Homo sapiens: one gene and its partners. The protein of the gene in region 1 purifies or fractionates together with the protein of each later gene. This does not show direct contact. Each region holds a gene or a part of one and is shown in the gene's direction. Other genes may lie near its edges. The genes, in order: AIFM1, SGPL1, CPOX, MAP3K4, SERPINB3, COX6B1 and FAM91A1.

Region 1 (4,210 bases):
GTTGCAGTGAGCCGAGATTGTGCCACTGCACTCCAGCTTGGGGACAGAGTGAGACCCTGTCTCAAAAAAAAAAAGTCCATTTACTTTTAAATGCTTTTTTCTTTTTTTTTTGGCAAATTGAGACAAAAGCTGCTGAACTTTCCTAAATCTACACTGTTAGTATTATCAGTTTGTGAAAAGCAAGCAGAAGGAGAATAAACATGAGTATGATATTAAAACAAATTTGTTATAATGTCTGTATTTAGGGTCTTCTGGAGGAATAAACAGAATTAAAAAAAAGAAAAACAAAAACAAAAAAAATTTATTTTTAGTAAATGAACCAGGGGTAGAGGTGGAGGACAAACTAAATTCATTGAACTAAATCACATGGAACTTTTCCTAACCAGTTTCATTTTCTAAGCTCTGAGAGTTACCACTTTCTACTTCTGATGGTTCATTATTTTTGTAAGCTTCTGAAAATCAAAAGCTTGCCCAGATTGAGATAAGTTTCTGCCCCGCTCACGTTTTTATTTTCATGATTTGTCATTATTTCCAAATCTCAACCATTTTATTTCATGTGGTGATGAAGAGTTCTAAAAGCAGGTAAGAAGAACAGTAAAGAAAAATACATTTCCTTTTCTAAGAGTGTAGATCTAAAGTCTCTTATCTGTAATTCAGAAATTGAAATTGTAGAATGACCAAAATTTAAGACTATCAAGTTTTCATAACTCATTTGCCAGTAAAACCTGACCTGAACTGGAGAGAGGCTACTTTATAATCTTTTTAAAATATCACTTAGCGTGATTGGTCATATTAATATGTTTAACTATGAATTGCTGCCCTTTACCTTGCTAGGTGTCACTATGTGGTATATGCCCCATATACTTAAGACCAGATAATTCAAAGTTCCAAATTATACATGGTCCCCAGGATTTCAGATGAGAGACCACAGATCCACATTGGGCTTGTTTTTACCCGTCTGTGGCCTAACGTTATGAAAGCAAGGGGGAAATTCCTTCTCTAATCTCTGCAAGTATACATGGGATGCTACTACCAGTGTCCATTCTGTTTGTCTTTTAAAGCCTAGACAGGACAGGGACATAAGTATCAGCCTCTAGACTAAGCTTGTCCAACCTGCAGCCCAACACAAATTTGTAAACTTTCTTAAAACATTATGAGATTTTTTTGCGATTTTTTTTTTTTTTTTTTTTTTTTTTTTAGCTCATCAGCTATGGTTAGTGTTAGTGTATTTTATATGTGGCCCAGGACAATTCTTCTTCTTCCCATGTGGCTCGGGGAAGCCAAAAGATAGGATATACCTGCTCTAGACAGATGGTTCTCAATGTGTGGTCCCCACCCTAACAGCAGCAGCAGCAACAGCAGCATCCCCTGGGAACTTGTTAGAAATGCACATTCTTGAGCCCCATCCCAGATCTATTGAATCAGAACCTCTGGGCCTGGGGCCTGGCCAGCTTTGTTTTATAAAACCTTCAGGGCATTGGGATACACTCTCAAGTTTGAAAACCACTGCTCTAGATCGGGGTCTGCCAACTACAGCCACAGGCCAAAGCCAGTCAGTCACCTGCTTTTGTATGCCCCAGGAGCCATGAGTGGGTTTTGCATTTTTTTTCTTTTTTCTTTTTCTCTTTTTTTTTCTTTGAAATGGAGTTTCGCTCTCGTTGCCCAGTCTGGAGTGCGATGGCACAATCTCGGCTCACTGCAACCTCCGCCTCCTGGGTTCAAGCTATTCTCCTGCCTCAGCCTCCCGAGTAGCTGGGATTATAGGCATAAGCCACCACGCCCGGCTAATTTTTTGTATTTTTAGTAGAAACAGGGTTTCTCCATGTTGGTCAGGCTGGTCTCTAACTCCCAACCTCAGGTGATTCACCCTCCTCGGCCTTCCAAAGTGCTGGGATTACAGGCGTGAGCCACTGCACCTGGTCTTTTTTCTTTTCTTTTTTTTTTTTTTTGAGACGGAGTCTCACTCTGTTGCCAGGCTGGAGTGCAGTGGTGCGATCTCGGCTCACTGCAACCTCCGCCTCCCGGGTTCAAGCGATTCTCCTGCCTCAGCCTCCCGAGTAGCTGGGACTACAAGCATGCCCCACCACACCTGCCCAGCTAATTTTTAACGGGGTTTCACCATGTTGGCCAGGATGGTCTCGATCTCTTGACCTCGTGATCTGCCCACCTAGGCCTCCCAAAGTGCTGGGATTACAGGCGTGAGCCACCACGCCTGACCTACATTTTTTAAACGGCTGAAAAAAAAAAGAATTTCGTGACACATGAAAATTATATAAAATTTAAACTTCAGTGTCCATAAAGTTTTATTGGAACATGGCCACATCCATTCATTTATGTATTGTCTTTGGCTGCTTTTATGCAGCATCAGTGGAATTGAGTAGTTGCAGCAGACACCAAATGGCCCAGAAAGCTGAAAATATTTACCATCTGGTTCTTTGCAGAAAAAATTTGCTGCTCTAGGTTGATAGTCAACAAACACGAGGAGTAATCACAGAATAATCAGAGACTGAGACCTTCCTTTATCTGAAAATGTCAGCGTCTCCCTAGAAAAAGAAATCTACAGAACTCTTATATTTCTATGTACAGGTGCTGTTATGATCATCACATCATTACATAGCTCTGCATAGTTTTACGTCAAAATAACCTTTGTATTATTTTGGAGGAGTAAGAGTCAAGGAGTTGCTGGACACTTCACATTTTGTCATTATAAAAAATATTTCATAGTCCAAAATTTTTTAGTTCTTTGGGGGAGAGAAACTCATTAAAATTTTTTTTTCTGATTTTCTTCTGAGCTTTAACATTTCTGTATTCCAGGACACATTACCTTTCATGCAAGATTGAACTGTGTCCTGGTTAGAGTGTTGCGTTTTATTTTGTGCAAGATTGGAACCATCTAGATTACTCCTTAAATGGTTGTTATAATGTCCCAGGTAGCCCATGGTTAACTTTGTATATCTACCTATTCAGTCATCTCTCTGTGTTTACTTAATTTATGGGAAAGACATGAAGGAAGAGGTATTTGATGAACTGTTCGTGTTTTTCATGATCTTTTCTGGAAGCTGAAAATTTTCTCACTGGACAGCATTAAATTTTACTCTTAAAAACTTCAGCAACTTAAGAGCGTTCATTCAGCTGTCTGTAGTATTTATATATGCAGTTTTGATGATATTTTTCTTGATCATTTAACGGTGAATATCTGTGGGCAATAAGTCTTGTACAGTGCATTGACATTTAATCATAAATATGTATTAACTATTTTATTTTTGTATGTGTGTGTCTTAATAAATTATGTTTCTTAGGCAACTTGTTCCAGCGATGGCATGTTCCTCTAGAACTCCAGATGACAAGACAAATGGCTAGCTCTGGTGCATCAGGGGGCAAAATCGATAATTCTGTGTTAGTCCTTATTGTGGGCTTATCAACAGTAGGAGCTGGTGCCTATGTAAGTAGAAAAGCAGCGTGTATAAAGAAGCTGCCAAACAGCTCCCATTAATAGACTCGATAGTATTCTGCTTTAAAACTTTTGCAACTAATTCCCCTTTCTCCTTTTGGAAAAATTTTCAAAAAGCCTTCTCTTAAGTGCCTGCTGCCTAATATCTTATGGGAGCCAATTCTGGAATGACTGAAATTTAATCTCATGTTGATTGATTTCTGCTCTTTTCACTTGTCTTTTTCTTCTTTACTTGAAAGCCACTATGTTTTCCTAGATTCGAGTAACCCACAAAATTGTACCTGTTTTCTTGGATGTCACACACTAACCTGTGAATAAAGTCAAAATCCATTGCAGCTCCTTAGCACAATATTTGATTTTGACCTATTTGTCAGACATTTTATTTCCTCAGCTTGAGGTTCACATTAAAAAAACAACAGCCTTCAATCAAAAATATTAAGTGTTCCTAAAAGGAAAGCTATCCCTGAATCTTACCCAAAGACTAAATTACAGAAACAGGGCTAGTATCACTGATTTTAGAATGGAGTTTGTTTGAGGTGAGAAATATGGTGTTTAATTGCTATGTAGTATTAGCACCATTATATCTCCTTAAATGAACTCCGATCAGCTTAGCAGGTCACAGAGGAATTATTTTGTGGGTGTTTTTTTCCTAACTTGGCAGGGTTTACTGTGACTAAGCCGATCAGTCTAAAGTTGGATCCTGTAAGGTTGAGTGAACCAACTTAGATAACACCTAGTAACACCCTTGATTGAAGGAAG
Region 2 (4,210 bases), on another chromosome or scaffold:
AATATGAATGTGAATATGTAAGTGAATAAAAGAAAACAGCTCAGAAGCTGTGGCTTTGAGGATGGAAAAGAAGGGAACCATAGTTGATAAACTACCTAGCAGAAAGGACCTTAGTTCCTTTTAATATTTTGGGGTCAGACAGTGCAAGCTGTCGACAGCAGCTTAAGGAGATACATTAGAGTCTTCCTGGCAGTTCTTAGAATGCCTTGTGCTAGTGTTGAATGGGACCTCCAAATTCCTAGTGTGCTGCGTGTATGTCTGTTGAAGGAGCTCATCACTTGCACAAGGACCAGAATCACTTTTACTGCAGCATGGCCAGTTTTCTGGCCACTGTTCCTAGTTATACCTTTGATTCTTTTACACACACACTGTAGCTGCTGCCAAGGCAGGATCAAAGTCCAAATACTGCCCTCAAGGATGTGCTGACTTTAGCAATGCCAACCAAGTGAAGCAGCAGTGATGTCAATGTGGCAGAGAAAAGGGTTATGGGGAAATTGGGTGCAACTTTTTTTTTTTTTTTTTTGAGACAGAGTCTTGCTCTGTTGCCCAGGCTGAATGGAGTACAGTGGTGTGATCTTGGCTCACTGCAACCTCCACCTCCTGGGTTCAAGTGATTCTCATGCCTCAGCCTCCCAAGTAGCTGGGATTACAAATGCCTGCTACCATGCCTGGCTAATTTTTGTATTTTTAGTAGAGATGGGGTTTCACCATGTTGGCCAGGCTGGTCTCGAACTCCTGACCTGTAATGATCTGCCCACCTCGGCTTCCTGAAGAGCTGTGATAATAGGTGTAAGCCACCGCGACCGGCTGAGTGCATCTTGACCTTTAGAGAGAAGCTTCGCTTTTCAAATTTTTAAGAGGCTATTGTACATGCCAGAAAGTAGCTGATCAGTCAGAATATCACCATATATCTTTAGGAAAAATGTTAGTTTAGTTACTTGTGCGGTGCCTAGCATTGAGCAGTTGCTTGACTGTCATAATAATTCTGCTGTCTCTACTGTACTCTTGCATCTGGATAACTTTGTCTTTCTTACCTTTGGAGATTCAAGACAAGTTGAACAAGACCAAGGATGATATTAGCAAGAACATGTCATTCCTGAAAGTGGACAAAGAGTATGTGAAAGCTTTACCCTCCCAGGGTCTGAGCTCATCTGCTGTTTTGGAGAAACTTAAGGAGTACAGCTCTATGGGTATGATGCTTGGCATATACATGCTCTCTACTTCCTTAAAGAGACAGGTTTTGTCATTGTTTAATGTTCACATAGGTTAAGAATAACTCATCATTGGTTAATACATGTTTAGGAGGGCCTACTCTCTGTTTCACAGGTTGAATTTCCTATTTTTAAAATTATGTTTAGATTCATCCTTCATCCATAAAGCAAGCAAATCTCAGAGACAGTGGAACTTGGCTTTTATTTCCTTTTGTAAGCATGAATAAAACAAATATATTTGTGTTTAAGAAGAGAGAATATAAGATATGTAATACAAATGAAATACAGATCCATGTAAAAATGTGAAATCTGCATAAAGGCACAAAAGAAAATAAGTCACTATAATTCCACTATCAAAGATAAACAGATGGTGTCTATCTTTATGCATGTAGCTATAGGTAGAGCTGTCTATATAGTTTACATCTATCTATATATGTATATCTGTCTGTTTCTGAGAATGCTAATAGTGTTTGTCTGTGTGTATACACATGTATGCATGAGCACATATGGGATGGATAAATAGACCAAATAGCTTGGTGCTTAAGAGCGTAACCCTGGAACCAGCCTGGATTCATACCTTGGTTTGCCACTTAAAGTATGCCTTTGGCGAGTTACTTCTGTATGTCACAGTTCCTGTATCTCTACAATGGGGATAGTAATAGTAGTACAGTACTTACCTGAAAAGATGATTATGGGGATTAAATGAGATCATACATGTATAAATGTTTTATAGTGCCTGGCATATAGTAAGGATTCAGTAAATGTTAAACATTATTGCTATTATTAACTCAAACAGATTTATGTTTGTTACTGATTAAGATCATATTACAAGTACTTTTTAAAAAGAAGCTTTTTAGTTTGATATATTTACAGAAAAGTAGCAAAGATGATAGAGATTTCCCTATACCCAGCTTCTCCTGATGTTAACATCCTCTATAACCATGGTACGTTTATCAAAACTAAAAAATTAACATTGGTACAGTGCTATTAACTACACTACAAATTCTATTTCTAGTTCATCAGGGTTTTTTTTTGTTTTGCTATGTTTTGTTTTAAACTAATGTTCTTTTTTCTATTCTAGGAGCCAACCAGGAGCCATGTTGCATTTTGACAAATACCCTTATTTTTTATTTTTTGAGACAGAGTCTCACTGTGTTGCCCAGGCTGGAATGCAGTGGTGTGATCTCAGCTCACTGCAACTTCCACCTTCCAGGCTTAAGCAATTCTCGTGCCTCAGCCTCCCAAGTAGCTGAGATTACAGGCGTGCGGCACCATACCCAGCTAATTTTTTGTGTTTTTAGTAGAGATAAGATTTCACCATGTTGCCCAGGTTGGTCTCGAACTCCTGAACTCAGGTGATCTGCCCACCTTGGCCTCCCAAAGTGCTAGGATTACAGGTGTGAGCCACTGTGCTCGGCCTTGACAAATACCCTTACAATTTCTAAGTGACATGTGTTGAGGTCTTGACATTGAATAGTACAAAATTTGATATAGTCTAGGATGTAGATGAATAAAGCAGTGGTTAGCACTCTAAAACCTGGTGTTAAAGATTTCCATGATTATGAGACCTGGTTGCCGCCATCATATTGCCTTCTCTTTAATGTTTAAGTCACTGTCCATTGCTGTATTCTCTAGCATCAGTAAAAGAACAGGAAATGAAACCAGTTATCTTATTTTTGAAAGGCTGGTGACCACTGGTCTGAAGCTGTGTATAGTACAGAGCAGTGTCCTCTAAGGAAAGAGTGAAAGTCAAACGGGCAGCAAGCCAGAGCTTGGCAGATTGCTGTAAGAATGAGTTTGTCTGTATATTTACCACTTAGTTTTCTGTTCTCAAGAGCTGAAGATCTTTGCTTTGGAGAGCCCTTGGCTCCATGCAGTTTTTAGTTGGTGTGTTTCCGTAATAGCTTTCTCACTACCCACTTTCAATAGGGCACAGCTGCATTGTAGCACAAGGACCTGAGACACCCATATCAACAAATTTGTGGGTAAAATGAAGAATGTCTCGGGGAGAGAGGAAAGTGGAAAGTCAGATCTTATATTCTACTCAGGAACTTTACTTTTCTTTCCACACTGGGATAAAGGAGGTTTATCCCAATGTTGACTGTGTTCCTGATCTTGAATATGCTACAGCGTGTGCTGCTGGAAGCAGGTAACTAGTTTTATGTGGGTTTCCAGGCTTGGCTTAAGGGAGCCGGCGTCTGAGACCGGGGTGCTCATGGTTTATACCTCATTGTGGTTTGTTTGCTGGTTTCATCTCTGATGATAGTGTGCTGAAATTTCACACTTTTCATTTTGCTTTCTTCTGCCAACTCTGCTCATAATAGTTCTCAAAATTCCTAGGACTGGATAGGAAAGGAGAGAAGAAGGAAGCTATTGCAGAAAAAGGCCACTCCAAAGCCATATAGAGAACAAAAAATAAGTATAGACAAAGGCAAATGTTCCTGCTGTTAGAAGGCAGTTGAGGATGAGGACAACATTATTATCAGATTGCCTTTATTGTAGCTAAATGCTATTAATATCTTTTTCACATTGCTGATAATAATGATTTTTCATCTTTATTTTATTGTGCTAACTCTATTGAACTTTTTTCTTGATTTGCTATAAGAATGCTGTTGGGTTTCCACTCAACATTTTTTTCTTTTGTATCCAGAGGAGTTTCTTCCTGTTTCTTCTTTATCAGAACCTGTCTTCCCAGAGATTCTTGCTTACTGACCAGTGACCTTACCTTTCTCTGCAGACGCCTTCTGGCAAGAGGGGAGAGCCTCTGGAACAGTGTACAGTGGGGAGGAGAAGCTCACTGAGCTCCTTGTGAAGGTGAGTGTCCAGTTCTTGAGGGAAGCCTGTGAGGTCTGTGCCAGTTTACATGACCTCCTTTTTTTCCCTTACTTTTGTAATTAGAAAAATTACTTAAGGAAAGCTTATTGGTACAATAAAACCATAAAAGTTTCTCTTCACCCAAACATAGGCGAATATGTATAATATTATCAAAGACATCTTCA
Region 3 (3,043 bases), on another chromosome or scaffold:
ATTTTGGGGCCCCTGTGATGAGGCACTATCTTGGCTACCCGGTGGCTGTAACATGGACCTGCCAAAAAGAACCTCATAGTTTAGTGGGGAAGACATACCCAAGAGGACAATTTAGAACTCTGTGCAAAGTAAAGTATTCTAGTTTTGCACAAGATTTCGAAGGCAAAACTTGGCAGATTTTGTCAATACTAATTAGGTGAATCCTTTAAAACTTCATAGACAGGAGTAATGGTTTGTTTTGCGGTTTTGTTTTGTTTTTTATACATCGTTTGATGGCAGATCATTCTGAAAGTCGTTGTTGTGTATCATTGCATGTCTGGTGTCATGAGATAGGCAGAACTGTGGGGTAGTAGATTAATTTTCTATGGTATGGTGTGTGACTGTTCTTCAAAGACAGCTTCTTTCTGCCTCCCTTATCTCTGGTCCTTAAGATGGCAATAAACTCTGGGGCCTAAGATAACTCCAGTTCTTCTCTGGGGCTATCAACACTGTCTTTGGTTTCTAATACTGCAGTCATGACCAGTTTTCTGTATCCTTTTCACTTACTGTTACCCACTTTGCCTCGTCTTCACCCTGTCCAAACACCGGTCTCCCTTTCAGCAGTCAGTCTCATTCCCTTTTGACTTTACAGTCTCTTATTTGGCAATCTCATCCAGTTTCTTGCCCACAGTTACTGCTATCCTCCCCCAGACCTTGAACATCAGTCTTACAGTTATCCTTTTCATAGGAAAACAGAAATTAAAGACTTTTAACTTACTTGTTCGTTGTATTCTGGGAAAGGGAAACAGGATAAAATTTAGGCATTAGTTAAATTGAAGGGATTGGTTAAAGTCCCTAACTTATAGGCACCCCAGAGAGGACAGATGTATGGAAAGGATCAGAAAAGATTAAATAATATTATTTAAAAACAAATATGAAAATGCTGCAACTCAACACTACTTTTATTATGATTGCTGTTAATCTGCAGAGAGACTGAATTATATGACTGCTTATTAATGCAATTAACTACTTTAAGAAAGAAGAATATATAGAATATCAGATCTATACCAGGAATAGGAGATGGAAATTTTTTATTAAAAAAGAAAAATCAGATCTAAGTGCAACTTGGTGGGAGGTAGAGAGGCCAATGTAGAGAAAGGGGCATCCTTCACGCAATAAAGGAAAGGATCCAACAGAAAATTCATTAAGGAATCTTTACAAGGGTCTCTGCGATAGGTCTTCAAATACATCAATATAAACTAGAGAACCATACCCATCCCCTAGAGAGATGTTTCAGAAAGATAATATCAGGTGAAAAAGGTAGCCAAAAGATGAAATTATTTTCCATGGTCTTAGAAAAGGATTCAGAAGATTCACTTAAATTATTTTTTGAAACAGACATAAGAAGGTATTAAATAGTTTTTTGTACGTAAAAGTCAATGATAAATGGTGAGAGTTAGAAAGGGAGCATAGATAAAATTCTTTACACTTTTGCAGGGCTTTTGACAAGTTCCACATACAAAAGGTGCTTTTAAAAAATTAAAGTATTGTGGGCCGGGCGTGGTGGCTCACGCCTGTAATCCTAGCACTTTGGGAGGCCGAGGCGGGCAGATCACGAGGTCAGGAGATCAAGACCATCCTGGCTAACACTATGAGACCTCGTCTCTACTAAAAATACAAAAAATTAGCCAGTCATGGTGGCGGGTGCCTATAGTCCCAGCTACTCGGGAGACTGAGGCAGGAAAATGGGTGAACCCCGGAGGCGGAGCTTGCAGTGAGCTGAGATTGCGCCACTGCACTCCAGCCTGGGCAACAGAGTAAGATTCCATCTCAAAAAAAAAAAAGAAAAGAAAAAAAAATTATTGTGGGAATCTAGAGGATATTTTGCTATAGATGGGCATCAAGACAGTAACCAATAGGTAAATAAGAATATGTGAGTGAAGTTTAGACCAAGGGAGTAATTTCTGAATAAGATAAGAAATGATCTGAAAGGGGCACTGTTTATTGAACTTTTCAGATTATGAATCAGTCTAAATTCTTTTGAGTAGTAGAAATTATCCTTTTGAAATGGGAGAGGGAGACCCGTTTACATCCTATGTTAAAGGCAGATGCAGGGTTTTAAACTGGAAGGAGTCCAGATCTGACTAGGGGAGTTAACATATTGAACCAAGTTTTAGTTGATGCTAAGGGTATTTAAAAAAAAAATGAAAACACTGCAACTCAACACTACCTTTTATTATGATTGCTATTAATCTGCAGAGAGACTGAATTATATGACTGCTTATTAATGCAATTAACTACTTTAGGAAAGAGGAATATATAGAATATCATAGTCCATTATTAATAGATTATTGTTAGCTGTAGTTGGCCTTTCAGGTCAGAAGTTTTACACCATCTTAGTAGTAGTAGTTGTGGGTTACAGGCAGTGAAATGAAATCTTTGAGTCCAAAACATTCCAGATTATGAGGAAGGCCAGAAAGAGCTGGGTTATCCTGAGAAGGGATGCATTTCTTTTTCTTAATTGTTGTTCTGCTTTAAACTTCTCAGCTTTGTGTCAATTCTGTTTACTTATGGGAAAACATAACCTTGTATTGTGACTGCTCTATGTTGGGGCAGAATCTATATTCTATTGTTTGGTGGGTAGAATACCCTTTTATTTCTGCCTGTCCAGATGGAGAGCTCTCAATGGGCTGTAGGCTGGTGTCCTCTGTGCCAGTTCCAGCTGATGGGAACTGGGGGGAAGAACCCACCCCTTTTTAAGTATTTGTTATGGGTTAGTCTTAAGATTTTATTGAGCTGGCCCTTAATGTTATTTGATGTATTTATGGCAGGTATGTAGAATTTAATCTGCTGTATGATCGGGGCACAAAGTTTGGCCTCTTCACTCCAGGATCCAGAATTGAAAGTATCTTGATGTCTTTACCTCTAACTGCCCGGTAAGGAGATAACTCATTTTAGTAGTTATCCCTACACTCCCAATTCCCAAACACCCACAAAATATGAAAGTTAACACTGCAGATGTTGTGCCTAGGTCTTTGTTAGTTTTGACTTTGCTGATTTTATA
Region 4 (4,210 bases), on another chromosome or scaffold:
GTCATGCCTGCAGTCCCAAAGGGTTCTTCTCCGTGGTGCTGAATATCCCAGCTGTCAATGCCCACTGAAGCGTGTTGCTGTGTAGGAGAAGCTTTGCTTAAAAATGACTTTCTGATTAGATGGTTGTTGGCCTGGTATCCCTGAGATTGGCATTGTTTTTGGACTGGTGTTGAACTAGAATAACAACTAGTAACTGGGTTGGTTTTTATGTCCTGTGCTTGATTTTCCTCCCAGGTGGATAATCTTTTACTAGTTGTCATGCAGTCTGCGCATCTCACAATTCAGAGAAAAGCTTTCCAGCAGTCCATTGAGGGACTTATGACTCTGTGCCAGGAGCAGACATCCAGTCAGCCGGTCATCGCCAAAGCTTTGCAGCAGCTGAAGGTATTACACTGTCCTCTACATTAGCTGAGATTTTTCCTTTTTGATGAAAGTCAGTGTGTGGTAATGTGTGTAAGGTAATATCATCCAAGGAACTTGAGCTCCTGAATTGCCTGCCCACTCACCTCTCTTCCCAATACATATTTTCTTATGTCTAAACTACATATTCTGAGATTCTTCCTGAAGCTGTAGAACTTTATAATTGGAAAGGATAGAGAATTGAACTTTATGTGACTTATTCATAATGGCTACATGACTGGTTAGTGGCAAAGTTGAAAATTTAATAATTTAGGTCTCTTCATTCCCAGTGTAAATTTCATTCTCCTTTCACAATCCCCAGTATTTACTAGAGGTACTCCATATCAGCAGTGTGTAATAGAAGATTTATTTATTGTTTTGTTTAATAAATAATTCAACCAAATTAAATATAATAGAAAAAAGTTGCAGAGAAGTACAAAGGCCTTTCAAAGTTTATGACAAGCCCCAGCCTGGCTGTCTTTTTCCATTATTTCCTGTTTTTGACACTTTCTATTTTGTATCCCATGTATCAGTCTTGATCTCATCCACACTTTTCCAGGCCATCAGTTATGTCTTCTCACTCACATTAAGGCTTAACTTCTTGAAGAAGAAACATTCTCTGAAGTTACAAGTCATTTCGTAAACACTTGTTTTTCTTCTGTTGGTCTGATTTGTCTGATTTATCTATAAACATTTATTAACTAAATATTTAGGTTATCTCTCTCTATGGATTGCTGGAAGAATATTTTGTAACCATAGTAAGGGGATTGCCTGATGGAGACCTTGTGTGCACTCGTGTGTAAGGGTGGGTAGAGAGAGAGACCGATTTGGAGCTATTGTGATGTTGCTGACAGAGGTGACAAAAGCTCGAGCCAGGGCAGGGCTTCTCAGCCTCTTGGATGTGGACGTTTGGGCCCGTAACTCTTGGTCGTGGAGGGCCGTCCTGCGCATTGTAGGATGTTTAGAGCTAGGGCAGGGCTTCTCAGCCTCTTGGATGTGGACGTTTGGGCCCGTAACTCTTGGTCGTGGAGGGCTGTCCTGCGCATTGTAGGATGTTTAGAGCCAGGGCAGGGCTTCTCAGCCTCTTGGATGTGGACGTTTGGGCCCGTAACTCTTGGTCATGGAGGGCCGTCCTGCGCATTGTAGGATGTTTAGAGCCAGGGCAGGGCTTCTCAGCCTCTTGGATGTGGACGTTTGGGCCCGTAATTCTTGGTCGTGGAGGGCCGCCCTGCGCATTGTAGGATGTTTAGAGCCAGGGCAGGGCTTCTCAGCCTCTTGGATGTGGACGTTTGGGCCCGTAACTCTTGGTCGTGGAGGGCCGTCCTGCGCATTGTAGGATGTTTAGCAGCATCCCTGGCCTCTACTCACCATATCCCAGTACTTCCACTTTTTCCTCCAAATTTTGACCATCAAAAACTTCTCTGGACAACGTCTCCAGACGCTGAGGGGAGGGGGAGAAATCTGCCCCAGAAGAGAACCCCTGGACTAGGGAGTAGCAGGGAAATGAGGACAGCACGATCGGAGGAGGTCATCTAGAAGTACATGGACTTTTTCACTCTGTGGAATTGCACCCGTACTTATGGTTGAGCAACCGTCCAGGAGGAGAAAACAACAGGTGGTTGATGTATAAAAATATTGAAGATAAAAGCATCTATTCCAAGAGCAGATTATAACTAGACTGTATCATTTTAAATGCATTTTTTTCTCTTCTATTTAAGAATGCCAAATAAAATGACATAATTTCTTCTATATTTGGTAATTCCTTTACCAAGTGGCTGAATTGTTTGTAGTGGTTAATGTCTGTGTGATGATGAACGAAATCTTCCTTTAAAATGTGGTAAGTATTGTATGATTTGCTTCATTTTGCATTAATCATGGTTTGGACTCTTCAGAATGATGCATTGGAGCTATGCAACAGGATAAGCAATGCCATTGACCGCGTGGACCACATGTTCACATCAGAATTTGATGCTGAGGTTGATGAATCTGAATCTGTCACCTTGCAACAGTACTACCGAGAAGCAATGATTCAGGGGTACAATTTTGGATTTGAGGTAGGTTCAAAATAAGAGGAAACACGGTACAATTTAGTAATTGCTTGATAACTTACAGAAAGTTTTTGGAACCTTTTACAGTAAATCTGATATTGTAATCATAGCTTAATCAAGAATATCATCTTATATCACTGCTGTATATCAGAGATGTTAGTTTACTTTTAAACTGTTAGGTAATTGTCCAACTTTTATTTTGTGCTAACAGCCATCTACTTACATTTTAAAACTTTAAAGAGATGTTTTATGTCATAAAAGCACATTCTTAATTTAAACTCAGGAGTAAAACATTTATGAAACTGCATTTTGAAACACTGTACTTTCCATAATTCTTCATACTATTCAAAATATAGAAATTTTAATTGGATTTCACTTTTTGTTTTTAGAAAACATTTTAGACATGGCATTATAGTGTGTGATATTATTTAATGATCATTTCCTTAATGTTGATATACATGAAATCTTCTTACAGTATCATAAAGAAGTTGTTCGTTTGATGTCTGGGGAGTTTAGACAGAAGATAGGAGACAAATATATAAGCTTTGCCCGGAAGTGGATGAATTATGTCCTGACTAAATGTGAGAGTGGTAGAGGTACAAGACCCAGGTAATGACCAAGTAGGATGTTTCTGAAATGTGTCATGTGGGCTTGGTGGTATTTGTTCATATATGTTCTGTGGGATTCTTTTTGAGCAGACGACACAGAAGGGAACACTCTAAACTCTTCGGTGATCAGGTTTTTTTTAATGGAAAAATATGTAGAGAAAACTGCGTAACTCTTGGGAAAAAATTTTTTTTTAAATTTGTTCCAAATTTGAGTTACCTTTAAGGGAACTCATGTTCTCCTTTGACAAGTCTTCCTGATGACTAATGTATTTTCCTCCCTCATGAAATTTATTCATTAAGAAACCATTTTGGAATTTGCAGGGGTGAAATGGGTGAATCGTCTGTGAGGCTCAATACTAGCTCCACTAAAGTAAACATAGTTATTAAAGTGTCATGACTGTGTGAGAAATAGCTGAGTGTTCTGTAATTTGTAATGGAGGGATAGCATGGGGCACTTTCTTAAAGTCATTAAGCAATTTCTCCAAGTTAGAGAAAACACATTTGCTGCATCTGAGATTCAAAGTAGGAACTTTGTGTTACAAAACTCATAAATACTTGTTGAATTACAAATAAATAATTGTTGAATTACAGATGGCACCTATCATGTCTAAAATCCTCTTCCATGCTTCCCATTGGTTTCAAAACAAAATTAAATTTTAAAAAATTATTCTCCTTTCCAAAAGGTCACGCTGTAAACTTACTGAACCCAAGCAAAAAAAAGTGTCTTGTCCTAAATAGTAATTATAATTATGTTACTTTTCAGTATTGTACAGTCTAAAACTGCTACAGCGTTTTCTTGGTTGTTATGTGATTACTGAACTTTTTCGTGTACCAGGTGGGCGACTCAAGGATTTGATTTTCTACAAGCAATTGAACCTGCCTTTATTTCAGCTTTACCAGAAGATGACTTCTTGGTATGGATTATTCTAAAGTTTTTTTCATTATAAAATAAGCCAGTCACTCCTTATTTTCTGGTTGTATATGTTTTATATGTAATAGTGGTTTTTTTCATGAGATATTAATCTCAGCATATCATGTAATGATAATGCTGAGAAATTAAAGTACTCCTCATAGCAGAGTAAGATTTTTTTTCTTTTTGTAACATTAGTGTTCAACTAAGTCAATGTCTGGTTTGTAAACCCTGGCCCTTCTAAA
Region 5 (4,907 bases), on another chromosome or scaffold:
AAGGCAGATGAGCCTGACCGATCCAGGTGGAGAGCATTTACTCAGAGTGCAATAGCTCCGTTTCCACAACTCTCCCCCACTGGAGTGTCCCAGACCCTAACAATACATCACTGAAGTGTGGATTTAGGGATAATCTTGTAATAAAAGAGGAGGTTGGGTAATAGAGTGAGTAAGAGTAATAAGTAATAAGATACCATCGATAAACTGGCACTGACTCAGTCACATACGATACATCTTGGTGGGAAATGTATGACTAATGGGATATTATTGGAATGGGCAGGCTTGGGTGAGTTCCTGAGAATAGTTGAGGAAGTACCAGGAAATACTGAATGCACAGGATGAAAGATAAAAACAAAGATCAGAAACATCATGGTTGAAATTACTGGAAAGAGGTCTGAGAAGCAATGAATCTCCTTCAGGGAAGCCTGCTCTGCAGTTTGCAAACCACAGCCTCTTCTGCTTCTGCCTTTTGCCAGATGATATTGACCTTCGGTGACCTCTTTCTTGCGCCAGCCCGCACTCCGCTTTTGCATTGCCTACATGGCACCAGTATAAAAATATGCATGGACAGGAGATACTGCATCTATTCAGGGTCTGGATTCAGCTTACTATAATTATAAATAACTAAATTTGGTAATATATAGTTACATAAATTACTCTTACTTCCTACTTTCTTCCTTCATATCTCAAAGGAATATTTAGATGCCATCAAGAAATTTTACCAGACCAGTGTGGAATCTGTTGATTTTGCAAATGCTCCAGAAGAAAGTCGAAAGAAGATTAACTCCTGGGTGGAAAGTCAAACGAATGGTAGGAGAGCCACCCATTATAGAAACACCTTTGAGAAATCTATGCGAGTGAGCCCTATGCCTGAAACTGCATGGGGGACCATGGGTGGGAATTGAGATGGCTTTGCAGGGAGGGAAGAAGAGGGCACTCCAGATGAAGAGTTTTTCCAAATGATTATGAAGAGAGCCTAGGGGAGCCAAGGAGGAAATCACAGGAAGCCAATTAGAAGAAAACATAGCCGGAGGATTCTTTGCTCATGTTCCTGGATGACAATAGCTTTGTGGATCCCTTGTCTCCACTCAGGTCCAATTTGAGATCATGTCCTTTACTTTAAATCAGAACCAATATTTTATGATGAATATTTAAAAGGAAACATTAGAAAGCATCTCCCTTCCCCTTTACTAATTGGGAAACAAGCAGCTCTCTGGTAAATCACCCTTTTGCCATCTGAACTAGAGCTGCCTGGATCACATCTCTAGCCACAAGTTCTGCAGGGATTATCACAGCTCTCTTCCCCATCAAGGGCAAGAGCTTAACAAATTCTCCATTCTATAGACATCTATCCTACCTCCCACCTCTCATTACAGGCCAAACTTACAGCAACTCAACATGAGAGTGAATAGGAAGATACCCCCGGAAGTAGTGTCTGACAGCACAGGACATGCGTTTCATATTACAGAGCTCATGTCACTTGTCCTAAAAAGCAGTCAGGGCCTACTTCCTCTGAATGGGGACCCCGTAGTTAAAAAAAAAAAAAAAAAAGTAGGAAGAGGAGGGAGGGAGAAAGGAAAGACACATGTTGAAAGAGTAGACAAAATCAGTTTATCAGTATTCCAAATCAGATGAATGGACTCATTCATACACAGAGAACGTGAACTCCTTCTCTATCACAAGAAGTGATGTCTCCATTAAGGGCAACTTTATACGACTGGAGCCTTGAAGAAAGCTGCATCTGGTGAACCACTGGTCAGTGAGTCTAACAATTCAAAGATCAAAGTCAGTGAGTCTCAAGTAGGGATTTGGGTCAATAATTAACGATCAGTCACGAACATTTGCAAAGCATCTTCCAGACAAGCCATTTGTAGCTTGTGTAAAAGACTCTTTTATTCTTTCCCTTGCAGAAAAAATTAAAAACCTAATTCCTGAAGGTAATATTGGCAGCAATACCACATTGGTTCTTGTGAACGCAATCTATTTCAAAGGGCAGTGGGAGAAGAAATTTAATAAAGAAGATACTAAAGAGGAAAAATTTTGGCCAAACAAGGTATTGTCTATATTTTATTTATATAATGTAATATGTTAATAAATTTAAACATTTCTGATGGAATGTACCATGACAAGTAAAAAATAAAATTGTTCATGTCTGTTTTTTTGTTGTTTTAGTCTTATAACTTTATTTAGTTAGGAATTCCTGAAGAAGCTATTGTCTCTAACTCATTACATTCTTGGATTATTTCTTAAAAGAAGGATGTGTTGATATCTCAATAATATTATCTTTTTGCCTTGTGTCTCACTTGGTATTTGTTGGACACATTGATTTATTGTAGAATACATACAAGTCCATACAGATGATGAGGCAATACACATCTTTTCATTTTGCCTCGCTGGAGGATGTACAGGCCAAGGTCCTGGAAATACCATACAAAGGCAAAGATCTAAGCATGATTGTGTTGCTGCCAAATGAAATCGATGGTCTCCAGAAGGTAAGAACTTGCATCTACAACTCTTCCTTCTACTGCCTGACATTTTTCCAAAGATACCAAGTTTAAACAAGGTAAAAGCTGGTGACCGAGTTGCCTCAAAATAATGAAAAATTCTAAATGAGGAATGATGACTCACCTTCATATTACAAAGATTTAAGCATAGGGCCTGACACAAACTGAAGGCATAGTTAATGATTAATTTATTAGAGTTACATGCATTGGATATCAATTTAATGATATTATTATGCAGCAATTTAAACTTGACTGGGAGAAATATATAGCAATGTGAGGAAAGTTTACGAATACACCAAGTAAAAAAGGGAATAGAAATTTAGGAATTTGGGGAATTGCAATTTAATAATTGCAATGTGTACTAAATAATGTATACAGAAAAATAAGATGAGCCTATTAAAAATTGACACATGTAGTAGGCTGTTGGCACAAGAAATAGTGATATATATAGTTCATTGTGTACAAAATAATGTAATCATATTTTTACATGTGTATCATACAGTTGTATACATACATATGTACACATTACATATACATAAAAACTTGATTCTGTTTATACACATACACATATAACCCAATGTATTTATATATCCAGGACTCATATTTTGCCTATTAGAATAATAATATCTAATAAAGTGAACCTTCTGTATTTCACATTTGTTGCCAAAATAAGGATTCTCCACATAGTCAATTCATTGTTAAGGTGTATTAGAAATCAACAGTTAGTCATATCAGTTTCTTTTTTCCATTTGTATAGCTTGAAGAGAAACTCACTGCTGAGAAATTGATGGAATGGACAAGTTTGCAGAATATGAGAGAGACACGTGTCGATTTACACTTACCTCGGTTCAAAGTGGAAGAGAGCTATGACCTCAAGGACACGTTGAGAACCATGGGAATGGTGGATATCTTCAATGGGGATGCAGACCTCTCAGGCATGACCGGGAGCCGCGGTCTCGTGCTATCTGGAGTCCTACACAAGGCCTTTGTGGAGGTTACAGAGGAGGGAGCAGAAGCTGCAGCTGCCACCGCTGTAGTAGGATTCGGATCATCACCTACTTCAACTAATGAAGAGTTCCATTGTAATCACCCTTTCCTATTCTTCATAAGGCAAAATAAGACCAACAGCATCCTCTTCTATGGCAGATTCTCATCCCCGTAGATGCAATTAGTCTGTCACTCCATTTGGAAAATGTTCACCTGCAGATGTTCTGGTAAACTGATTGCTGGCAACAACAGATTCTCTTGGCTCATATTTCTTTTCTTTCTCATCTTGATGATGATCGTCATCATCAAGAATTTAATGATTAAAATAGCATGCCTTTCTCTCTTTCTCTTAATAAGCCCACATATAAATGTACTTTTTCTTCCAGAAAAATTCTCCTTGAGGAAAAATGTCCAAAATAAGATGAATCACTTAATACCGTATCTTCTAAATTTGAAATATAATTCTGTTTGTGACCTGTTTTAAATGAACCAAACCAAATCATACTTTTTCTTTGAATTTAGCAACCTAGAAACACACATTTCTTTGAATTTAGGTGATACCTAAATCCTTCTTATGTTTCTAAATTTTGTGATTCTATAAAACACATCATCAATAAAATAGTGACATAAAATCATTTTTGCTTTACATTTTCTCTCTGGAAAGGGAAAGTGTCCAGTTACACACAGGAAAGACAATTTAGAGATATATTAATCACAAACAAAGGAAAATTAAAAACAGAGTAGTTCATGATGAGCCTGGAGTAGAAGGCATATCCCAGAACAGGAGGAGCCTTGTAAACCACATTAGGAACTTCCTATTTTATGCTAAAGGGATAAGAAACTCATTACAGGCTTTGATGGTTGTTTGTCAAAGAGGGGCATAAAATTATCATATCTTCATCTTGAAAATACATCTCTGGTTACTCTGATATCAATGGATGAGAGGAAAGAACAGTGTGGTTACCATATATAAATCAGGAAATCATTAGAGTATTGGGGGTGGAAATGAAGAGAAAGAAACAGCCTGGCAGAATTATTTAGGAAGTAATAGTTAAAAAAAGACATCTAAGTTTCTGAGCTATCTGACTGGAAGGATGGAAGAAAATGTTGTTTTTGAGAGAAAAAAAAGACCATGGGTTTAAATTTGTACTTGATGAATTGAGGTACTTTTAATATTCAAATGAATTTGCCTGGCAGGTACTTGAAGATATTGATCTAAATCTCAGAAACAGAATATGATCTGAAGCTCTAAATTTGTGATATTCAACATAAATACTTTAGAGTTATTGGGATAAACATGGTAATTGTAGCTAGAAGCAAAGATAAGATCCTAGGGAGGAAGGATAAAGTTAGAAGAAAGAAGAATCTGGAATTGACCTTGAAGTATATCAATATGTGTAAAGATCATGAACTGAT
Region 6 (4,210 bases), on another chromosome or scaffold:
CTAGAAACTGCTGGCAGAACTACCTGGGTAAGCAGGACCTTTCCCTGGCCACATACCTCGAGTCACTCACCGCTTGCCTCTTCCTAGGGGACCCATCCACCCCAGCCTCCTCCCTTTTATTCTGAACATCCTTACTCTGGAAGGCCCATGCCTCTCATCACCTGCTGTTCAGGTCCAGGCTAGGGTTACAAACTTTAGTTCCTGCAATGATTTTTTTTTTAATTTAAATTTTTTATTATTATTATGGTTTGGTTTTGTTTTTTTCCAGAGATGGGGTCTCACTTTGTCACCTAGGCTGGAGTGCAGTGGTGCAATCATAGCTCACTGCAGCCTCAACCTCCTGGGCTCAAGAGGTCCCCCTACCTCAGCCTCTCGAGTAGCTGGGACCACAGGCCCACACTACTGTACTTGGCTAATTTTTTTGTAGAGAAGAGGTCTCAGTTTGTTGCCCAGGCTGGTCTCAAACTCTTGGCTTCATGCGCTCTTCCTGCCTCAGCTTCTCAAAGTGTTGGGATTATAGGTGTGAGCCACCGTGCCTGGCCCCTACAATGATTTTTTTTTAAGCTGTATGTGTGTGCGTACTGTAACATGTACAGAAAGCACATAACAAACATGTACAGCTAAATGAATAATTCTAAAGTGAACCCCTTGTGCAACCATAACCTGGAGAGAAAAGCAGACATTGCCCACACTCTCATCTCCCTGCCTTCTTTTTTTTTTTTTTGAGATGGAGTTTTGCTCTTGTTGCCCAGGCTGGAGTGCAATGGTGCAATCTTGGCTCACTGCAACCTCCGCCTCCCAGGTTCAAGCAATTCTCCTGCCTCAGTCCCCCAAGTAGCTGGGATTACAGGCACCTGCCACCACACCCAGCTAATTTTTTGTATTTTTAGTAGAGACGGGGTTTCTCCATGTTGGTCAGGCTGGTCTCAAACTCCTGACCTCAGGTGATCCACCCGCCTCGGCCTCCCAAAATGCTGGGATTACAGGCATGAGCCACCGCGCCTGGCCTCCCCACCTTCTTTATGTCCTGTCTGGAACACAGCACCCCGCTCTCCCCAGTAGAGAAGTGACGCCACTAACTGGGGGTTATCACATCTTTGTTTTTGGTTTTGGTTTTTGTTTTTGAGACTGAGTTTTTTGTTTTCGTTGCCCAGGCTGGAGTGCAATGTCACGATCTCGGCTCACTGCAACCTCTTCTGCCTGCTGGGTTCAAGCAATTCTCCTGTCTCAGCCTCACTAGTAGCTGGGATTACAGGCACCCGCCACCATGCCCAGCTAATTTTTTGTATTTTTTTTTTTTTTTAGTAAAGACAAGGTTTCACCATGTTGATCAGGCTGATCTTGAACTCCTGACCTCAGGTGATCCACCCACCTCAGCCTCCCAAAGTGCTGGAATTACAGGCGTGAGCCACTGTGCCCGGCCTCACATCTTTGTTTTTTACCACCATGTTTATTATTTTATTTTATTTTATATATGTTATGTTGTTATGTTATTGATGGAGTCTGTTTCTTGTTGCCCAAGTTGGAGTGCAATGGCACGATCTCAGCTCATTGCAACCTCTGCCTCCCGGGTTCAAGTGATTCTCCTGCCTCAGCCTCCTGAGTAGCTGGGAATACAGGCGCTCGCCACCACACCCAGCTAATTTTTTTTTTTTTTTTTTTTTGAGACGGAGTCTCGCTTTGTCGCCCAGGTTGGAGTGCAGTGGTGCAATCTCGACTCACTGCAACCTCCGCCTCCCAGCTTCAAGCACTTCTCTGCCTCAGCCTGCCGAGTAGCTGGGATTACAGTCGCCTGCCACCATGCCTGGCTAATTTTTTTTTTTTGTATTTTTAGTAGAGACAGGGTTTTACCATCTTGGCCAGGCTGGTCTTAAACTCCTGACCTCGTGATCCACCCCCCTCAGCCTCCCAAAGTGCTGAGATTACAGGTGTAAGCCACCATGCCTGGCCAATTTTATTTATTTATTTGAGACAGAGTCTCGCTCTGTTGCCCAGGCTGGAGTGCAGTGGTACAACCTTGGCTCACTGCAACCTCCGCCTCCCGGGTTTAAGCAATTCTCCTGCCTCAGCTTCCTGAGTAGCTGGGACTACAGGCGCGTGCCACCATGCCCGGCTAATTTTTTGTGTTTTTAGTAGAGACAGGATTTCACCATGTTGGCCAGGCTGGTCTCGATCTCCTGACCTCATGATCTGCCTGCCTCGGCCTCCCAAAGTGCTGAGATTACAGGCGTGAGCCACCGTGCCTGGCCAATTTTTTGTATTTTTTTTTTTTTTTTGAGATGGAGTCTCGCTCTGTCGCCCAGGCTGGAGTGCAGTGGCGTGATCTCGGCTCCCTGCAAGCTCCGCCTCCTGGGTTCACACCATTCTCCTGCCTCAGCCTCCCGAGTAGCTGGGACTACAGGTGCCCGCCACCGCGCCCAGCTAATTTTTTGTATTTTTAGTAGAGATGGGGTTTCACCGTGGTCTCTATCTCCTGACCTCGTGATCTGCCTGCCTCGGCCTCCCAAAGTGCTGGGATTACAGGCATGAGCCACTAGGTCCAGCCACTTTTTTGTATTTTTAATAGAGACAGGGCTTCACCATGTTGTCCAGGCTGGTCTCGAACTCCTACCCTCAAGTGATCCACCTGCCTTAGCTTCCCAAAGTGCTGGGATTACAGGCCTGAGCCACCATGCCCGGCTACCACCGTGTTTAGATTCACCTCTTTGTGAACTTTATACATACTGTGTGTATTCTTTTGTGTTTGGATTTTTTCATTCAGTACCTTCTCAGATCCATACATGCTGTGGCATATAGCTTGCTCATTTTCATTGCTGTCCAGTTTTCTACAATTTATTCTATGCCTGTACACTTGTGTGATTTCCATTTTGGAGTTCTTACAAATGGTGTGGCTGTAAACATCTTTATAAATGTAATTTTGCTGGGTGCAGTGGCTCACGCCTGTAATCCTAGCACTTTGGGAGGCCGAGGTGGGCAGATCAAGACCAGCCTGGCCAACATGGCGAAACCCTGTCTCTACTAAAAATACAAAAATTAGCTGGGCATGGTGGCAGGTGCCTGTAATCCCAGCTACTTGAGAGGCTGAGGCAGGAGAATCACTTGAACCCAGGAGGAGGTAGAGGTTGCAGTGAGCTGAGATCGCACCACTGCACTCCAGCCTGAGTGACAGATTGAGACCCTACCTCAAAAAAAAAAAAAAATGTGTTCCAACTCTTGATCTGGGCTGACTTGAACCCCTTTCTTCACAGACTTCCACCGCTGTCAGAAGGCAATGACCGCTAAAGGAGGCGATATCTCTGTGTGCGAATGGTACCAGCGTGTGTACCAGTCCCTCTGCCCCACATCCTGGGTATGTGCCTCCTGCCAGGGCCCTTGGGATGCTGGGGTGGGGTCTTAGCAGAGGGGAGTGTGGTGGCTTGGTGGGAGCTCATCTGTGAGGGGCAGAGGGAGGACAGGGCACCACACTGTCCCAGGACTCAGTGCCTTTCCTCCCGCCTAGAATTACCTCCCTGTCTCCTTCTGCTGATGCCTCTCAACCAGTCAGGGCTCTCAGCTGAGGCGACCAGGGTGCTTTGCTAGATGTAGCTCACTCATGCACTCTCCAAATACACACTCAGCACTGGGCTCCCATCCCTGTGTAGCTCACAATTCTGTGCAGTCCTGTCCTTTTTTATTAGGAACATTTTTTTTTCTTTTTTTTTTTCTTTTTTTTTTTTTAGACAAGGGTCTTGCTGTGTTGCCAGGCTGGAAAGGCTGGAGTGCAGTGGCGCGATCTTGCCTCACTGCAACCTCCGCCTCCTGGGTTCAAGCGATTCCCCTGCCTCAGCCTTCCAAGTAGCTGGGACTACAGGTGTGCACCACCATGCCCAGCTAGTTTTTTGTATTTTAATAGAAACGGGGTTTCACCATGTTAGCCAGGATAGTCTCAATCTCCTGACTTCATGGTCCACCTGCCTCGGCCTCCCAGAGTGCTGGGATTACAGGCGTGAACCACCGTGCCCGGCCCTATTATGAACATTTTCAAAGCAGAGATAATAATTCATTGACCTCAAATACATCCATCACCCAAAGTGAATAGTTATCAGGATTTATCCACGGTTTCTTCATCTACCCCTTTTCGTTTTCTTCTTTCCTTTGCTGAAGTATTCTAAAGCAAGTCCCAGACACGTCATTTCACCCCTGCCTACTTCAGTGTGGACTTCTAAATAAT
Region 7 (4,210 bases), on another chromosome or scaffold:
ATGTGATGTCCGTTCTGTTTGTAGAGTTCACTCGTGTCAATATGGGTGTTCATAAAGCATTGCAGATACTAAGGAACAGAGTGGACTTACAGCATCTCTGTGGATATGTCACCATGTTGAATGCTTCCAGCCAACTTGCAGATAGAAAACTCAGTGATGCTTCTGATGAGAGAGGTTAGCCAATAGTTGGATTCTTTGGATTAAGATAATTGGTTTTGAGTTTGACACAGTGTTAATATATGAAAAGCAGCAGACCTTTGTGGGGATGCTGAATTATTGAATACTCAATATTCTTTCACTGAAGCACGAGGAAATATTTTGGAACATCATTTGGACAAATGTCAGTTGTTCAAATGAAGAAAATAGGATTGGGGTACAGAATGGTTTGGGACTTTTGGGTGCTCTACTGTCATATCTGTGTTTATTAGGCTTTATTAGGTTAGCTTTATAGGGTGATGGTTTCAAAACTCAAGTCTCTTTATACAAGTGTTTCCAAAATTGACTTAATAGTTTTTCCCTTTCAACTTTTTCTGTCAAAAGGTACCATTGTCTTAATTATCTAGGTCTAAAATCTTACCTTTGTCTCATTCTTTCCTTTTTCCACTATGTTCAGTTAGTTTCCAAGTTCTGTGAATTAGGCTTTAGATAAGTCTCTCATGTCCATTTCTTCCCCTTTCTCTTCATTTTAAATTCTCTGTGACTGCTCTTCTTGTCTGGGTCTTGAACTTTAAACCTTAAACATGTGCTGTTGCAACCATTCCCTGCTTAGCCTTTCTGGCCTCTCCTTTCTATCTCCAGTCTGTCCTACATATTGACAATAGCTAATTTTCCTTAGATATCACTTACTTTTTTTTTTTTTAATTTGAAAATCCATTTTCAAATCACCTTCTCATGCTTACTAGTTGTTTCTGCTCTGGCATAATATTGGCATATATGTGGTTTGGGTTGCCGTGGTGCCAGTTCTTATCCATTGACTCTGGGAGATCTTTCATTATCTCCCATTGATTGACAGTATTCCATGAGCCTCTTAGTTTGAAATTCTGAGGAAATGTGATTGATTACTTGCCATCCAGTAGATTGGGTTGGCTCCCATTGAGATAGGTACTTACTCCTATCTCATTTGTCTTTGGCCAAATAGTTGACTGCCAAATATTGCAGGAGCATTTTCTAGAGAAGAGGGCTATGACTTAAGCAGTCATTTCAAAGCGTATCTACTACAGCTCTCCTTTTTTATGTCATTCATTCCACAAACATTTATGGAATACCTGCTTAGGTGCTGGAGCAATTTAATAAGACCAGGCCAGGCATGGCCAGGTACAGGCTCATGCCTGTAATTCCAGTCCTCTGGGAGGCTAAAGCAGGAGTATTGCTTGAGGCTAGCAGTTTGAGACCAGTCCGGGCAATAGAGCAAGACCCTGTCTCTACAAAAAAAAAAAAAAAAAAAAAAGAAACAAAAAAGACAATGTTGTTCCAAGGATGAAAACCCTAGAGAGGAGACGAGTGAGTCAGTATACAGTGTGGTGTTATTGACTATGATGGGGTCTGCATAAAGCGCTAACACAGCACAGAGAAGGCCTCTTAGAGAAGGTGAAGTTTGAGTTTTGAAAATTGAAGAGTTAGGTAGACAAAAGATAATGTGTTTTTGGAGGGTGGCAGCCTTTCAGGCAGAGGGGAATTAGAAAACAGTAGTTCATTGTGGCCAAAAGAAAGGATTTGTTGGACAGTAGTAGAAGATGAGAGTAGAGAAGTAGATAAGGTCTAAGGGATCTTGGAGGATCTTCTGTGCTGAAAGATAATGAGTCAGAAAAGAACTTTGAAGAGTAATAACATAATCAGACTATATATTTCCACAGGGGTGCAATTGGCTTCAGTAACTTGGGTCCTCCTTTTTGAATTTTGTTTCTTTAGGTCAGGGTTTCTCAATCTCAGCACTATGTGCAGTTTGAGCTGGCTAATTCTTTTCTGTGGAGGATTGTCCTGTGTATGGTCAGATGTTTAGCATTCATAGATACGAATAGCATCCCTGTCTTCATTCGTGTCCCTTGGGGATCAAAATTGCTCCCCTGTTTAAAACCACTTATTTAAGCCAAGGATTATGCATTTTCTTTCTGTCATCATTACTATTGTCTGAAGTCTTTTCCATGTTAGGACTGATTTATTGGCAGCTTCTGCTAACTGCTAGAATCCTAATATTGTGTATGCCCTTTAATTATAAGGAGAACCTGATTTGGCTTCTGGCTCAGATGTAAATGGGAGTACAGAGTCATTTGAAATGGTCATTGAGGAAGCAACTATAGATTCAGCAACAAAGCAAACCTCTGGTATGGTGCTAAAACTTTTTCCAATTTTATTAGACTAATTTCTGAGGTTTAACTTTTATGTTAAGGCATTTGCATGCCATTTGTCTATTCTTATTATTCATACGACTTTTAAATAAGAGTTTTCTAGGAAGCCTTTTTACATACTTAGAAAAATAATTCAAGTATTATAAAATTATGACTTGAAAATAATCTTATTCCTGTGGTAAATGTTTTGATTCATTCTCTCATCTTACAGATATCTTGCAATACTCTTTTTTGGGCAAATGACTACTTTGAACATTGGATGAAAGCTATGTACCTTCTCAGACACATGTTTATACCCTAAAAATGCCTATCCTGTTTAGAGATTAACTGACCCCCTTCAATTTCTTCCTCCCCTGCCAAGCCCACTGGTGGATATCAGTGGGGCAGGAGGAATCTATGAACTTCAGGTTAAGAAACCCTTGTCAGTTATATATAATATATACATAAGTAGATATATATGATAAAAAAATAAGTTTATGTATCCTTTCTTAGGTGCCACAACAGAAGCAGATTGGGTTCCTCTCGAGCTGTGCTTTGGAATTCCACTGTTCAGTTCCGAATTAAACCGGAAAGTTTGTAGGAAAATTGCTGCACATGGCCTTTGCAGAAAAGAGAGGTGAGGGTTTATATTCGCTGTCATATTTTCATATCAATTTTTAAGCTGTCAGCAAATAGTTACCATATCTTACTTTTATTCCACACATGAGCACAGTAATTGTTCTGTATATATTTGTTGATTGAATAGAGATCGCTAGTTTAAGGGTTTTGCTGTATTTTTCAAAATTAAATTTCACTAGATCAGAAATTAGTCACAGGCAAACATTTTGGGCACATGTTTTGATTATATTTATTTAGTAATCTAGGTGAGGTGAGGGTGTGGTGAAATGGGCATGCTGATATGGAGTATGAACCTAGATTTTAAAAAATGTATGTCTACAGAAAATTTCTCTGCATTTCTCTCACTCCTAACATACACACACTCATGTTATATTCTGTTAATAGTGATTGGTTTTTGTGGTGGAATTATGATGACTTTGCAAAATTTTCTTCACTTTCTACATTTTCTAAAATGGATATGTATTACTCCTTAAAGATGACATGTAGGTTTTATCTTATATACCAGCTCTGATCCATTGTGAGTAGCTGCTAAGAGGCAATGTTGTAAAGGTTCTGAGACAAACTGGGTTAGCAGGAAAGAGTATAATTGAATCTAATTGTCATGATAGGTGGCTTGGAGAGGTGAAATCCACAAGTCAAGATCTTCTTATTTTAGAAAATGAAGTTGGACAATAATTCATTTAAATGGTGTAATGTAGCTTTTATCAGAAAATGAAGAGTACTCAGTTGACAATTTCAACATCTATTCTCTAAAAACAAAGTAATATACATGAGTAAAAAATAGAAATACTATAGAACTTTAAAGATTACCACTATAATTTTTACTGACTTACATATTTGAAAAATATTTAGGTAGGTTGGTGTGTGTTTAATCTGTTATCAGGTTGTCTTTTGCAATTACTTTGGTTGTTTAAAGGTTGTGTCATAGTTGTCATTCCTCAGAGTGCCTAAATCTTCATTTGAAAAGTTTTCTTTCATTTAACATTTATGTTTATAGTAGTTGAATTTTTTTAAAACAATAACTTTGATTTTAGTTACACGATGTATTTTATTTCAAAATGGACTTTTAATGCATGACTACTCCCTATTATTAAAACAAGCAAAAATTTCATTGATGAGAAACACTGAAATTGTTTTTTAAGATGTTTTGTGATTGGCCAGGATATATAGATGCATTTAAATTGCTAAAATTAAACTCTTATGAGAAACTCATTCTTGCCTTTATGTTTGTTTTAAACTGTTTCTCG

What was found.
Region 2: the proteins of AIFM1 (region 1) and SGPL1 purify together in Homo sapiens (affinity purification with mass spectrometry; 2 studies listed by BioGRID and IntAct, with this or other methods). This does not show direct contact.
Region 3: the proteins of AIFM1 (region 1) and CPOX fractionate together in Homo sapiens (co-fractionation; one large-scale study listed by BioGRID). This does not show direct contact.
Region 4: the proteins of AIFM1 (region 1) and MAP3K4 purify together in Homo sapiens (affinity purification with western blotting; one study listed by BioGRID). This does not show direct contact.
Region 5: the proteins of AIFM1 (region 1) and SERPINB3 purify together in Homo sapiens (affinity purification with mass spectrometry; one large-scale study listed by BioGRID and IntAct). This does not show direct contact.
Region 6: the proteins of AIFM1 (region 1) and COX6B1 purify together in Homo sapiens (affinity purification with mass spectrometry; 2 studies listed by BioGRID and IntAct, with this or other methods). This does not show direct contact.
Region 7: the proteins of AIFM1 (region 1) and FAM91A1 purify together in Homo sapiens (co-immunoprecipitation; 2 studies listed by BioGRID and IntAct, with this or other methods). This does not show direct contact.

Annotation. Positions count from the first base shown.
Region 1 is NC_000023.11:130,155,693-130,159,902, reverse strand, and holds part of AIFM1 (apoptosis-inducing factor 1, mitochondrial isoform AIF precursor), read left to right. Parts: intron 1-3,299; coding exon 3,300-3,442; intron 3,443-4,210. UniProt on the Homo sapiens protein: Functions both as NADH oxidoreductase and as regulator of apoptosis.
Region 2 is NC_000010.11:70,853,666-70,857,875, forward strand, and holds part of SGPL1 (sphingosine-1-phosphate lyase 1), read left to right. Parts: intron 1-1,042; coding exon 1,043-1,190; intron 1,191-2,122; coding exon of another isoform or gene 2,123-2,155; intron 2,156-3,948; coding exon 3,949-4,025; intron 4,026-4,210. UniProt on the Homo sapiens protein: Cleaves phosphorylated sphingoid bases (PSBs), such as sphingosine-1-phosphate, into fatty aldehydes and phosphoethanolamine. Elevates stress-induced ceramide production and apoptosis.
Region 3 is NC_000003.12:98,581,279-98,584,321, reverse strand, and holds part of CPOX (oxygen-dependent coproporphyrinogen-III oxidase, mitochondrial precursor), read left to right. Parts: intron 1-2,810; coding exon 2,811-2,915; intron 2,916-3,043. UniProt on the Homo sapiens protein: Catalyzes the aerobic oxidative decarboxylation of propionate groups of rings A and B of coproporphyrinogen-III to yield the vinyl groups in protoporphyrinogen-IX and participates to the sixth step in the heme biosynthetic pathway.
Region 4 is NC_000006.12:161,089,088-161,093,297, forward strand, and holds part of MAP3K4 (mitogen-activated protein kinase kinase kinase 4), read left to right. Parts: intron 1-234; coding exon 235-384; intron 385-2,291; coding exon 2,292-2,453; intron 2,454-2,922; coding exon 2,923-3,056; intron 3,057-3,890; coding exon 3,891-3,969; intron 3,970-4,210. UniProt on the Homo sapiens protein: Component of a protein kinase signal transduction cascade. Activates the CSBP2, P38 and JNK MAPK pathways, but not the ERK pathway. Specifically phosphorylates and activates MAP2K4 and MAP2K6.
Region 5 is NC_000018.10:63,654,416-63,659,322, reverse strand, and holds the end of SERPINB3 (serpin B3), read left to right. Parts: intron 1-692; coding exon 693-810; intron 811-1,910; coding exon 1,911-2,053; intron 2,054-2,336; coding exon 2,337-2,492; intron 2,493-3,261; coding exon 3,262-3,666; 3' UTR 3,667-4,126; downstream 4,127-4,907. UniProt on the Homo sapiens protein: May act as a papain-like cysteine protease inhibitor to modulate the host immune response against tumor cells. Also functions as an inhibitor of UV-induced apoptosis via suppression of the activity of c-Jun NH(2)-terminal kinase (JNK1).
Region 6 is NC_000019.10:35,651,323-35,655,532, forward strand, and holds part of COX6B1 (cytochrome c oxidase subunit 6B1), read left to right. Parts: coding exon 1-27; intron 28-3,248; coding exon 3,249-3,349; intron 3,350-4,210. UniProt on the Homo sapiens protein: Component of the cytochrome c oxidase, the last enzyme in the mitochondrial electron transport chain which drives oxidative phosphorylation.
Region 7 is NC_000008.11:123,806,056-123,810,265, forward strand, and holds part of FAM91A1 (protein FAM91A1), read left to right. Parts: intron 1-24; coding exon 25-174; intron 175-2,216; coding exon 2,217-2,321; intron 2,322-2,837; coding exon 2,838-2,961; intron 2,962-4,210. UniProt on the Homo sapiens protein: As component of the WDR11 complex acts together with TBC1D23 to facilitate the golgin-mediated capture of vesicles generated using AP-1.